3 linked regions of the Homo sapiens genome follow. The protein of the gene in region 2 purifies or fractionates together with the protein of the main gene of each other region. This does not show direct contact. Each region holds a gene or a part of one and is shown on either strand. Other genes may lie near its edges.

Region 1 (3,652 bases), on a different chromosome or scaffold from region 2:
CTACACTGCCTGGGGCCCGGCCTCTGCACCTGCCCGCCCGACACTCACCTGTGTGGCCTTGGGAGCAGAGGGTGGTGACAGGGCATCATCTAGTCAAGCCCCTGAGTGTTGCCATGGTTGTCAGCTGATAGGACTGAGCAGAAAGGACCCTGGAGACAGGCAGCGCTGGGTGGGGCTGGCACGGAGGCCTCACTCTTGGGCCTGATGTGGGCAAGAGGGGCCTGGGTTGGGCTCTGAGTGCTGGCAGATTCTTGGGAGCTCATGCTAGAGTTCAGGAATGTCTCGTAGGTTTCTACATTTAATTTAGCTTCTTCGGGAGTTTTTATGTAGATGCTCAGGTCATCTGTGGGTAAGTAACGATTTTTTGTTTCTTGCCCGTGTTCTCTCACGTGCTGTGCCGTCAGCTGTGTGGGCAGATGCCATTCCCTGCTCTTAGTTTTGGGGGCAGGAGCTGGTCTCGTACCATCGCATGTGGGGTCAGGCGCCCTTGGTCAGCTTGGGCAAGTGCCCTCTGTTCCTAGTTTTGGATTCCGTCAAGGGGAACGGCCTTGCAGTTCAGCCCACGGCCCTTGTCCCGGCGCCCATGCCCTTTGTGCTCTCTGGGGCTGGGGGCCGGCGCTGTGCACATGCTCGTGAGGGGCATGGGTGGGGCTGGCGCTGTGCAAGCGCTTGTCAGGGGCATGGGCGGGGGGTGCCGGCGCTGTGCGAGCGCTCGTGAGAGGCATGGGGGGGCTGGCGCTGTGCACGTGCTCGTGAGGGGCACGGGCAGGGGGTGCCGGCGCTGTGCGAGCGCTCGTGAGGGGCATGGGGGGGCTGGCGCTGTGCACGTGCTCGTGAGGGGCACAGGGGGGCCGGCACTGTGCGATCGCTCGTGAGGGGCATGGGGGTGGTGGGCCGGTGCTGTCTGAGTGCTCGTGAGGGGCACTGGTCTGTTTTCTGTTGTGCCTTTTTGGTCTTGGTGCTGGGTAGCGCCAGCCCCACGGGGTGCGGGAAGTATTTGGGAAGTAGCCCCTCCGCCCTCCGTTGTCTAGAATTGGGGTTATTTCTTCCTTAAGTTTTGGGAGAATTTTCCAGTAAAGCCACCTGGGCCTGGAGTTCCCTCTGTTGGAGGCAGTTTAGGGTGTGAGTGGGGGTGAGGTGGCATTTTTAGGATGGCCCCAGGGCTATATCACTCCTGGACTCTGTGTCTCCCGGCCAGGTGGGTGGGCCCTGGAAGGAAATGGGCCCAGAGGGCAGAATTGAGCATCCTGGTTCCACCCGCAGTGAAAGCTTCTAGTCCACAGAACCTCCTTTCTTCCCGAAGCACATACACCTCACGCCCCCACGAGTCTGTCTCTAACCTGGTGTCACTTGTGCAGCACGAGGAGCTCATGGGGGCCTGTTACTGTTCTTTTGTCTTTCTCAGTTGAACTGCTGGCTTATAAAGTAGAGCAGGAGAAGTGCATTGCTGGTGACTTGCAGAAGACGCTGAGTGAAGAGCAAGAGAAGGCAAACAGCGTGCAGAAGCTCCTGGCGGCGGAGCAGACTGTAGTGCGAGATTTGAAGTCCGACCTCTGTGAGAGCAGGCAGAAGAGCGAACAGCTGTCCCGGTCCCTCTGCGAGGTGCAGCAGGAGGTCCTCCAGCTGAGGTGCGCCTGATCCCCCTTCCTGGGACACTGGCGGGAGTCCCCCCGTTGTGCCATGTTTTCTTGGTGATGAAGGGAGACAGAACCTCTGGTGGGCCGCAGTTGGGCAGCCCCAGGGGCACCGCGCCCTGCTGTCCCTGGGTTGATAATCCTGTGGTGGGGGGTGAAGCACACGTGTGGGACCTGGCAGGGCTCTGCCTCCCCTCCTGGAGCTCCCAGCCCCCGGGAACACACTCTGGCCCACGTGGTCAGATTGTTCTGCGATGTCTCCACGCAGATCCATGCTGAGCAGTAAGGAGAACGAGCTGAAGGCCGCGCTTCAGGAGCTGGAGAGTGAGCAGGGGAAGGGGCGTGCCCTGCAGAGCCAGCTGGAGGAGGAGCAGCTGCGGCACCTGCAGAGGGAGAGCCAGAGTGCCAAGGCCCTGGAGGTAACAGGGTGTCAGGGCAAGGCAGCCGGCATGGGCTGTGTGCACTGGAAGCCTGAAGCCATGCTCCTCTTTCATCCTTCTTTTCCTGTTCTTCATGGCAGTGCACCCAGTTGACAGCAGTGTGACGTAGCAGGATAGGGCTGTGTTTGCAGGTAAAATTGCACCTTGGTGTAGTGGCAGCCACCACAGGGCGAAGAGTGCGATGACCCGTGGTGGCACGATACCCCTGCTCGGAGCCCCCCCCCGTCCCTGAGCACTTGCTGTGGAGATGGACACAGCCTCCTCGCTGGCATCCAGACAGAGCACAGCCTCAGAGGTCTGTGCACAAGGCAGGCTGGTGGTGGGGCCTCTGCTTTGCATGGCGGAGGCCCAGCAGGCCTGCTGTGGCTTCTGAGCAAGTCTGTGCCAGTTCCATGGGTTATGGCTTTCAACAGCATGGAAGTGGTGGTTCCTAGCAAGCTGGGTGTGTATCTCTGAGCCTCTGGTGGAGTGATTTTCTGAAGAGGGGGCAGGAGCCTCTGGTGGAGTGATTTTCTGAAGAGGGGGCAGGAGCCTCTGGTGGAGTGATTTTCTGGAGAGGGGGCGGGCAGGGGACATCTCTGAATCATTTTCTGGAGAGGGACAGACTGGGAACATCTCTGAACCCAGGACTCAACACCATTTCCGAAAAAAGTATGTCATCTCCGCAGTCTGGGTTTTTTGTTACTTGATGAACTAACAAAAAAATGTTGTCCCTACATGTGGCTAATAGGGTGCATTTCAAAAGGTAGAATTGCTGGGCTAAAGTATATAAACAAATGTGGACAGGAAAACCATGTAGACACTTTTCCTCTTGATTCAGTGTCTCCCATCGTATGTGTTTGCTGTCTAGGAGCTGCGGGCGTCTTTGGAGACACAGCGTGCTCAGAGCAGTCGACTCTGCGTGGCACTGAAACACGAGCAGACGGCCAAGGACAACCTGCAGAAGGAGCTGCGTATCGAGCACTCACGCTGCGAGGCCTTGCTGGCTCAGGAGCGGAGCCAGCTCTCTGAGCTCCAGAAGGACCTTGCGGCTGAGAAGAGCCGCACCCTGGAGCTGTCAGAGGCCTTGCGGCACGAGCGGCTCCTGACCGAGCAGCTGAGCCAGAGGACACAGGAGGCTTGCGTGCACCAGGACACACAGGCCCATCACGCTCTGCTGCAGAAGCTGAAGGAGGAGAAGTCCCGGGTGGTGGACTTGCAAGCGATGCTTGAAAAGGTGCAGCAGCAAGCCCTGCATTCTCAGCAGCAGCTTGAGGCTGAGGCTCAGAAGCACTGTGAGGCGCTCAGGAGAGAGAAGGAGGTAAGTGCCACACTGAAGTCGACGGTGGAAGCCCTGCACACCCAAAAACGAGAGCTGAGATGCTCTCTGGAGAGAGAGAGGGAGAAACCAGCGTGGTTGCAGGCAGAATTAGAGCAGTCACACCCACGGTTGAAAGAGCAAGAAGGACGCAAGGCTGCGAGGAGGAGCGCGGAGGCCAGGCAGAGCCCAGCGGCTGCGGAGCAGTGGAGGAAGTGGCAGAGAGACAAGGAGAAGCTGGTGAGAGCCGCCTGCCGGCGGAGCGTCCACACCTAAAAACG
Region 2 (3,457 bases):
CTCTAAAGCAAGGTCATTTCTGTGCTCGTCAGGCAGTGGCAGGGGTTGGGAGGAGGAGAGAGGGAAACACTGTGGTCAGGCTCTGGGGAGAGTTGACTACAGTGTAGCTCTTGGATTATTTATGAATATTGCCCTCAGATTTATTTTCACTCCGCTCCTTCCATTCATATTCCCAGAGACAACCAAGAGCCGACTGTAGAAAAAGACTTCCAGACACCTAGAATATATATCAATAGACACTGTTTAAAAGGGGTACAATCTTATCGAAAACTATGTAATAAACAGAATTGGATGCAGAACTCAGACATAAGAAAGCAAAAAAAAAGAGAGATGAGGCTATTTCTGAATTTAGTCATGACATCTCCATGGATGCAGGATGTTCATACAGATTTATGCCTTTTCCAAATTTGACTTGTTTGATATTGGAAATGCAATTTTACTGTTTTGAAGCCAAAGATGCTGAAATCAGCTTATATGTATAGATATTTAAAGCTTGGGTATCTTATATGTGGACTTACATTGCTAAACATTGTTAAAATAACTTAAAATGAATCAAAAACGTGTTTTTTTAAAAGAATCCCTGAGATACATACAAGTTTGAAAATTATTGAGAAAATAATTGCCTCTGCCAAAACCAAATGGTATGAAAAGGTAGTCTGAATCATTCAGCATATCTAAACATAATCTTGTTCTTCTCAAATATGCTTGGAATACATATTTGACAGGTTTGTTTCTGAGAAAATTTAGTGGAAATATTGTAGTCCAAATTTCCTATAGATTCCCCTACAGCCTTCATCATAATCATTTCTTTAGAGAGAAGTAAACAAGAGGACATTTGTGGCACTTTCTTCATTGTCCTTTATAGCATTTATTACTGAATAAATCACTATCCTCTGAGGAGGAAAGGAAAGTAAGCAGCAGAGGCCTATGAGTTGTCAGTCAGGACTGGGGAAAATCACAAACAGGAAGATAAAAAATGAACATATTTTATTAAATTCTCATAGGGTTACAGATTTTTTTCACACCACATTTGGAGACGTTTTTGGGGGAAAATATACCTTTAAAATTTTATCTGTAGTTAATTTGGATCTTCTTGGTCTACCCCACCCACAAAGGGTCAAATAAGAAAATAAATAAATTCAATCCAATCCTGAAATTTTAGTCTGATGCAGTAACTGAAACAGCCTAAAGGTAAATTTCCCAGTATCTCAGGTTTTTCCTCACCACGCTCTCTTCTCCAAGATGGCAGTTGAATGTAGGCAGAAAGAGCTGACTCTAGGACCACAGAGCAGTCAAGTGAAGGGTTTCTCACATCCCTTAGTCTTCCCTGGCATCTCTGGTCTCCATGGTAATGCCTGTCTGTCTGGTCGCTAGCTGCTTGCAGCTTAAGTTTTTGGTCTCGTCTCTCCCGGACTGGTGAAAGGCTGATGATGCCTCCCCAACTGGCTCATTTCAGTTCTCAATGGTGTCGAGGGCCTCCTTGATTCTCTGCCAGGCTGTCCTATCTGCTCCCTGGCTCTGGTGGTCTACTTCACAGACCCTCACCAGTGTGTGGTGTGTCTGAGTTCTTCCCTTATCCCCATACCTCACAGTAACAAAGAGTGACTTTGGAAAGTCAGATTCCAACCCTCCCTCTGCTTAGCCCACGGTGTAGATGCTAGGTTTCCTCTGATGTACCTGCCTCCCAAACTGGAGAGGGGAAACCATGAGGTGAATTGAATCTTTCTACTTCCCTTCTAAAATAAGGAGGTGGGATTCAATATTCCATGAGGTTCATCTACCTCTGACATCCTGTGATTCTATCCCCACTTCTCTGCTTCCTCTGAGACACCCTCAGGCCCACCTCTGAATAACAGTGAGCTCCTCCAATTCTAAGAGGCCTTGACATATCTGACTTTGCTCCTCATCATCCCCATGTCAAAGAACCCCTAGAGATAAAGTCAGCCTGGAGGTTAAATCTGCAAATAAAGGGTGTCCTATGAAACCAGTAATCAATACCCTTATATTCATTTCTATCATGCTGGAGCTGGACTGTTTCTGGGATCTTAAATGTGGGGTTGGCCAGTGGTACGGTGTGAATGTTTGTGTTCTCCCAAAATTCATATATTGAAATCTCAACTTCCAAGGTGATGGCCTTAAAAGTAGGGCCTCTGGGAGTTGATTGGGTCATGAGGGTGGAGCCCTCATGAATGGGATTAGTGCCCTTATAAAAGTTGCCCCTCCACCAAGTGAGGACACATAGAAGGCATCATTCATGAGGAACAGGCCCTCACCAGAGAGCAAATCTGCTGGCCTCTTGGTCTTGGACTTCCCAGACTCCAAAACTGTGAGCAATACATTTCTGTTGTTTATAAATTACCCAGTCTAAGGTATTTTATTATAGCTGAGACTAAGTCAGGGGTCACCATCTGGTGGAGACCTTGCATCCTAGTTAATTCATATATCCTTAGAGGCAAGCCCAGAATTTCTCTTTCCTTTGCCAATTCAATAGCAAGACAAGATCTCTATGCCATTCAGAAAAGCCAGTTTGTTCCTTGTAGAAGATCTAGTAACAGGAATTTTTACTCTGGTAGGTAATAGGTACATTTACTCCATCTTGAGCTCTCTGCGTCTAATACACATTATTCAGAATGCGATGGCATGCAGACCTGTATTCCTCCTCCCTTCAGCACTCCTTCCTCTGGACTGGCCTATGCCACCTCCTGTTCCACTGAACTGATTATTAAAAAAGGAAGAGATCACGTATGTAGAAAATAATCATGTTCACTGGAAGGAATGACATATTTGTTAGCAAACGATTTACATTTCAAGGCTTTCACCTCTAACTTTGAAAATGAAGCTCGCAAGATGCTTAAAGATTATGTCTGTGAAGCGGATCCCAAAAAAATATTGTGCAAGAGAATGAAGATCTGTTTACTTTAGGTTTATGTCAGTTTACCAAATAGCTCCAGTCCAAAGAGTTATTTATACACTCATCCATTTATTAAATCTTTAAAAATACTTAAAAATCTTATGAGGCAGTAGAATTTGAAGGTTTGTAGTTTGAATAATCAATAAAAGATGATGTTTAGGGTTGAAAGCCGCTATGTTAGTTTGTTGCCATGACTTGGTGGCTTGAACAACAGAAATTTGTTGTCTCTCAGTTCTGGAGGACAGTTCTGGGAACAAGCTGTCAGCAGGATTGCTTTCTTCTGAGGCATTTCTCCTTGGCTTAAAAATGGCCAGCTTCTCAAACTGTGTTCCTCTGTGCCTACATGTCTGGTGGCTCTCTCTTTATATCCTAACTCCTCTTCTTATAAAGACACCCTACTAACTTCATTTTAACTTATCTTTTTAACGGTCGTATGTTCAAATACAATCACATTCTCCAGTTCTGGGGTTAAGGCTTTGGCATGAACTTTAGGGGGAACAATTCAGCCCATACCAGCACCCCATGGGAGAGGGCAACAGAACAAAG
Region 3 (3,652 bases), about 28 Mb from region 2:
AATGAAGTCTGATTACCTTAATGGAATCAATGTCTGATTTAAAACAAACAAGTGATTAACCCATAAACAGCACCAGAATTAGTAAGTTTGTACTTTGTTTTTCTCTGATGAGGATGTTCATTGGCAAAAGGCAATTATAAACCAAACTTTCTTATGTCTTTCAGGAACAGAGATACTTACAAATCATTATCACAAGAATATAGTCAGTATCAAATATACCAATTACATTGTTATATGTTATCCTTCAGAGAAAACAGGATGCCACTTGATAACAACATTGCATTAATATCTGTCTTTGAGATTCTGCTGAACCCCCTGCAGGTTAGCTTTTGGAATAGAAAACTGGCAGTAGTGCAGGTCAAGTGCTTTCCTAATCTGATTTCTCTGATTAGGGCACTCTCTGATGGGGCTAGCAGTGACCTATCTTCAACATGGCGCTCCTTGAAAAAACAATATAACTAAAGTGATGTAACAAATTTACAAAAATTTAAAATAAATGAAGGAATGGTGTGTGTTTGTGTGTGTGTGTGTGTGTGTCTGTCTGTCTGTCTGTCTTTTGGAATCAAGTTTCAAAGTATAAAGCTATTGTTACTGATTGTCTGCCTGTTCGGCAAATAGCTCTACTTATCGAAAGAGGGAACAATTTGAGATAGTGCTTGCTGAATAGTTGATGTTTCACATTTTTAAACGCTCCTACCGACTTTACTTGGGGACAGTGCCCTAAAATTGTTCAGATTTGAATTTGCTCTGCTGAATTAAAGTGAAAGATCAATTGTCTTGATGACTCTATAGAAACAACTCAGGAAATATTATTGCCAGTTATTAAAAGCAGTATTTTTACATAATAAAAGTATTATTCTGCCTGTAATGTGCAACAGCTGCATCATATGCATTTTTAGATTTCCAGTGTATTTTATTTGACGAGATTTAGAGAGCTGAGTTTTATTAGCCTCTGGTCTCATTTTATTAAAATAAAAATTGCTTTTTCTTCCAAAAACATTTTTAAATTTGACCTTTGCTTTTAAATAATTATAGTAGATTATGTGCAATAATATAAACATCTCAATAACTTTCTGAAGTATACATTAAAAATGCACTATCTGGAAATACATGTTTATTCATAGTAAAAGAATGCAAAGAGGAATGATAATGAATAGCTTCTGTTGTCCATTTGCTAAACTAGTCTGTTAGTCCCCTGACATAGACTCTTTTAGTCTTCTATGCTAAATTTCTTATAATTCTTAAATGACTAATATAGAAATTAGGGTGCTGGTCTGGCTGGATTTTCATATGCAATCTGACAATGTATAACAAAGTACAAGTTTAACCTGAATATCCTTGAATAGAAATCCAAGTTCAACATATATTCAGTATACAATCAATCCTTGTCCTGCTGTCACCTGGGCAGAGAGTGGACAGTGGCACAGCATTAAGTCAGCTGCGGCTCAGGGAAGTGTTGGTGGACAGAGAATGCCCTAGGCCCTAGTTTCTGACAGCTTGTTGATAAGATTTGGAATGCACAGATAGTTCTTGTTGTCTGCAGGTTGCTGCTTTGTGCTGGGAGGGGTTGGGGATTAGAGGTGCTACTTGAGGGCACTTCATCAGGCAAGAGCCATCGACCTGGCAGAGCAGCTAAACATGGCATTCAAACCAACATGTTCAGAGGCATAATTATTTTAAGTTGAAATGGTATAATCTATATTGTATTGTTTCTTCTCAATGAATCACATTAGGTATTACATATTCTGTTTTTTCATATTTTTGTTAGTAAAAATGTATAGCTAAATGCAAAGAGTTTGTTTCCCAAGCAATTTTTGAGGTCAACAGAAGAGTTCCCTAAGAAAGGCCTTCTTAACATTGACAGTATTGACTTTTGGGGCTGGATAATTCTTTGTTGCGAGGGGCTGTCTTGTATGTTGTAGGACACTTAGCAGCATCCCTGGCGTCCATCCATTGAATATAATAGTTCCCCTCCAGCTGTGACAACCAAAAATGTCTTTAGACATTGCCAGGTGTCTCCTGAGAGGCAAAATAACTCAGTTGAAAACCACTGCCCTAAGAAAAAGGGAATACTTGAAATTCATTTTATTTTTCTAAATATAGAATCAGGGCCAGAGTGAATAGAGGATATATTTTATCTTTTAACAAATTTCTTTTGTACTATAAGAATTACATTTGTAATATATACCTTATATTGCAAAAAGTTTTACTACAGAGCTCTCTTGAATACTACATATATTCAGATATCATGTAACTTCTTATTCCTGTCAGATGGCAGAATTAGTTATTAATACATTCTAATGTCTCTTTTATTCTAAAGAGTCTTCTATAATTCTGTTCATTACTGCTGAGTAAAGAAAATAAATTGTTAAATATTACCTTAAAGAACAGCATCCGTTTTGCCTACAAGCTTTTGTGTTTCAGAAACAAACATTATTAAACGAAGCATTAAACTTCAAGAATTAGAATTGAGACTCTATTAGGAAGTTAAAAATGTACTATGAATAAGGTATGAAATTGTGTTCTGTTATACTTTAAATACTAGAAAAACAAATTGTTAGATTTCAGGTAAATTAATGCTATTCAAGAACAAATATATTTTATGATATGCAAGTTTGCATATCAACAAATAGAAACAATCCTTATATATCCACGAAAGCATTTCTGGAAGAAATTCTGTCTTGTAGCAGTTTATTCAGTGCTGCCATATGTATTTCCTTGACCAATCATGTAGCATTTCTTTAGTAGCAGTTCTACTTCAAACTTCACATTTCAGACTTGTTTTCCCCTAATAAGGTGTGATAGGCTAGTGGAACACTTATAATTTCCCCCAGGAAAATCACCATCAAGTAAATATACCAAACACTTTATCTTATGTGCTCAAAAGGCAAGGTGTCATCATCACCTTTCACATACCCCATGAGATTTATTTACAGCTTACATTGACTGTGAAACTCTTTTATCCCCTGGGAGTTCTACTTTATTTATTCCAGATAATAGGACACTTGCAACCTATTAACAGTTGTAAACAGGTCTTTCAAGTACATCTGACATAGCAATTACAAAATGTATTTGTTAGACAAATATCTAGAATTAAATCAGGACAAAGATGAAGATTAGATGACCACAAGAAGTTTCTGCATAGTTTATCTATTTTTCAAAAAAAAAATACAAGTATTATAGACCCTCAGCTACAAAATTCCAGTGAATAATTTAATGGATATTTTACTTATTATATTTTAGAAAAACATTGATTTGATGAATGTTTATTTAATAAAACAGCCTTACCCTAAATGATAGTAAATGAACACAGGATTAAAGGGAAGGAGGGAAGGCCTAAGGAAGAATGGATAGATGGATGGAGGACAAATGTATAATTAAGAATATCAACTTTGAGCTGAGACCTGCATGTTAAATTTTGCTTTTATTTTATTTTTCAGCCAATGTTTTCAGTTGCACCAAGCTTAGCCACCAATGCATCAGCAGCCGCCTTTAATCCCTATCTGGGACCTGTTTCTCCAAGCCTGGTCCCGGCAGAGATCTTGCCGACTGCACCAATGTTGGTTACAGGGAATCCGGGTGTCCCTGTACCTGCAGCTGCTGCAGCTGCTGCACAGAAATTAATGCGAACAGACAGACTTGAGGTAGGAAT

Evidence for each region.
Region 1: the proteins of ROPN1 (region 2) and PCNT purify together in Homo sapiens (affinity purification with mass spectrometry; one large-scale study listed by BioGRID and IntAct). This does not show direct contact.
Region 3: the proteins of ROPN1 (region 2) and MBNL1 purify together in Homo sapiens (affinity purification with mass spectrometry; 2 studies listed by BioGRID and IntAct, with this or other methods). This does not show direct contact.

What each region holds. Positions count from the first base shown.
Region 1 is NC_000021.9:46,428,605-46,432,256, forward strand, and holds part of PCNT (pericentrin), read left to right. Parts: intron 1-1,405; coding exon 1,406-1,628; intron 1,629-1,902; coding exon 1,903-2,053; intron 2,054-2,924; coding exon 2,925-3,611; intron 3,612-3,652. UniProt on the Homo sapiens protein: Integral component of the filamentous matrix of the centrosome involved in the initial establishment of organized microtubule arrays in both mitosis and meiosis. Plays a role, together with DISC1, in the microtubule network formation.
Region 2 is NC_000003.12:123,971,787-123,975,243, reverse strand, and holds part of ROPN1 (ropporin-1A), read left to right. Parts: intron 1-3,457. UniProt on the Homo sapiens protein: Important for male fertility. With ROPN1L, involved in fibrous sheath integrity and sperm motility, plays a role in PKA-dependent signaling processes required for spermatozoa capacitation.
Region 3 is NC_000003.12:152,429,277-152,432,928, forward strand, and holds part of MBNL1 (muscleblind-like protein 1), read left to right. Parts: intron 1-3,440; coding exon 3,441-3,644; intron 3,645-3,652. UniProt on the Homo sapiens protein: Mediates pre-mRNA alternative splicing regulation. Acts either as activator or repressor of splicing on specific pre-mRNA targets. Inhibits cardiac troponin-T (TNNT2) pre-mRNA exon inclusion but induces insulin receptor (IR) pre-mRNA exon inclusion in muscle.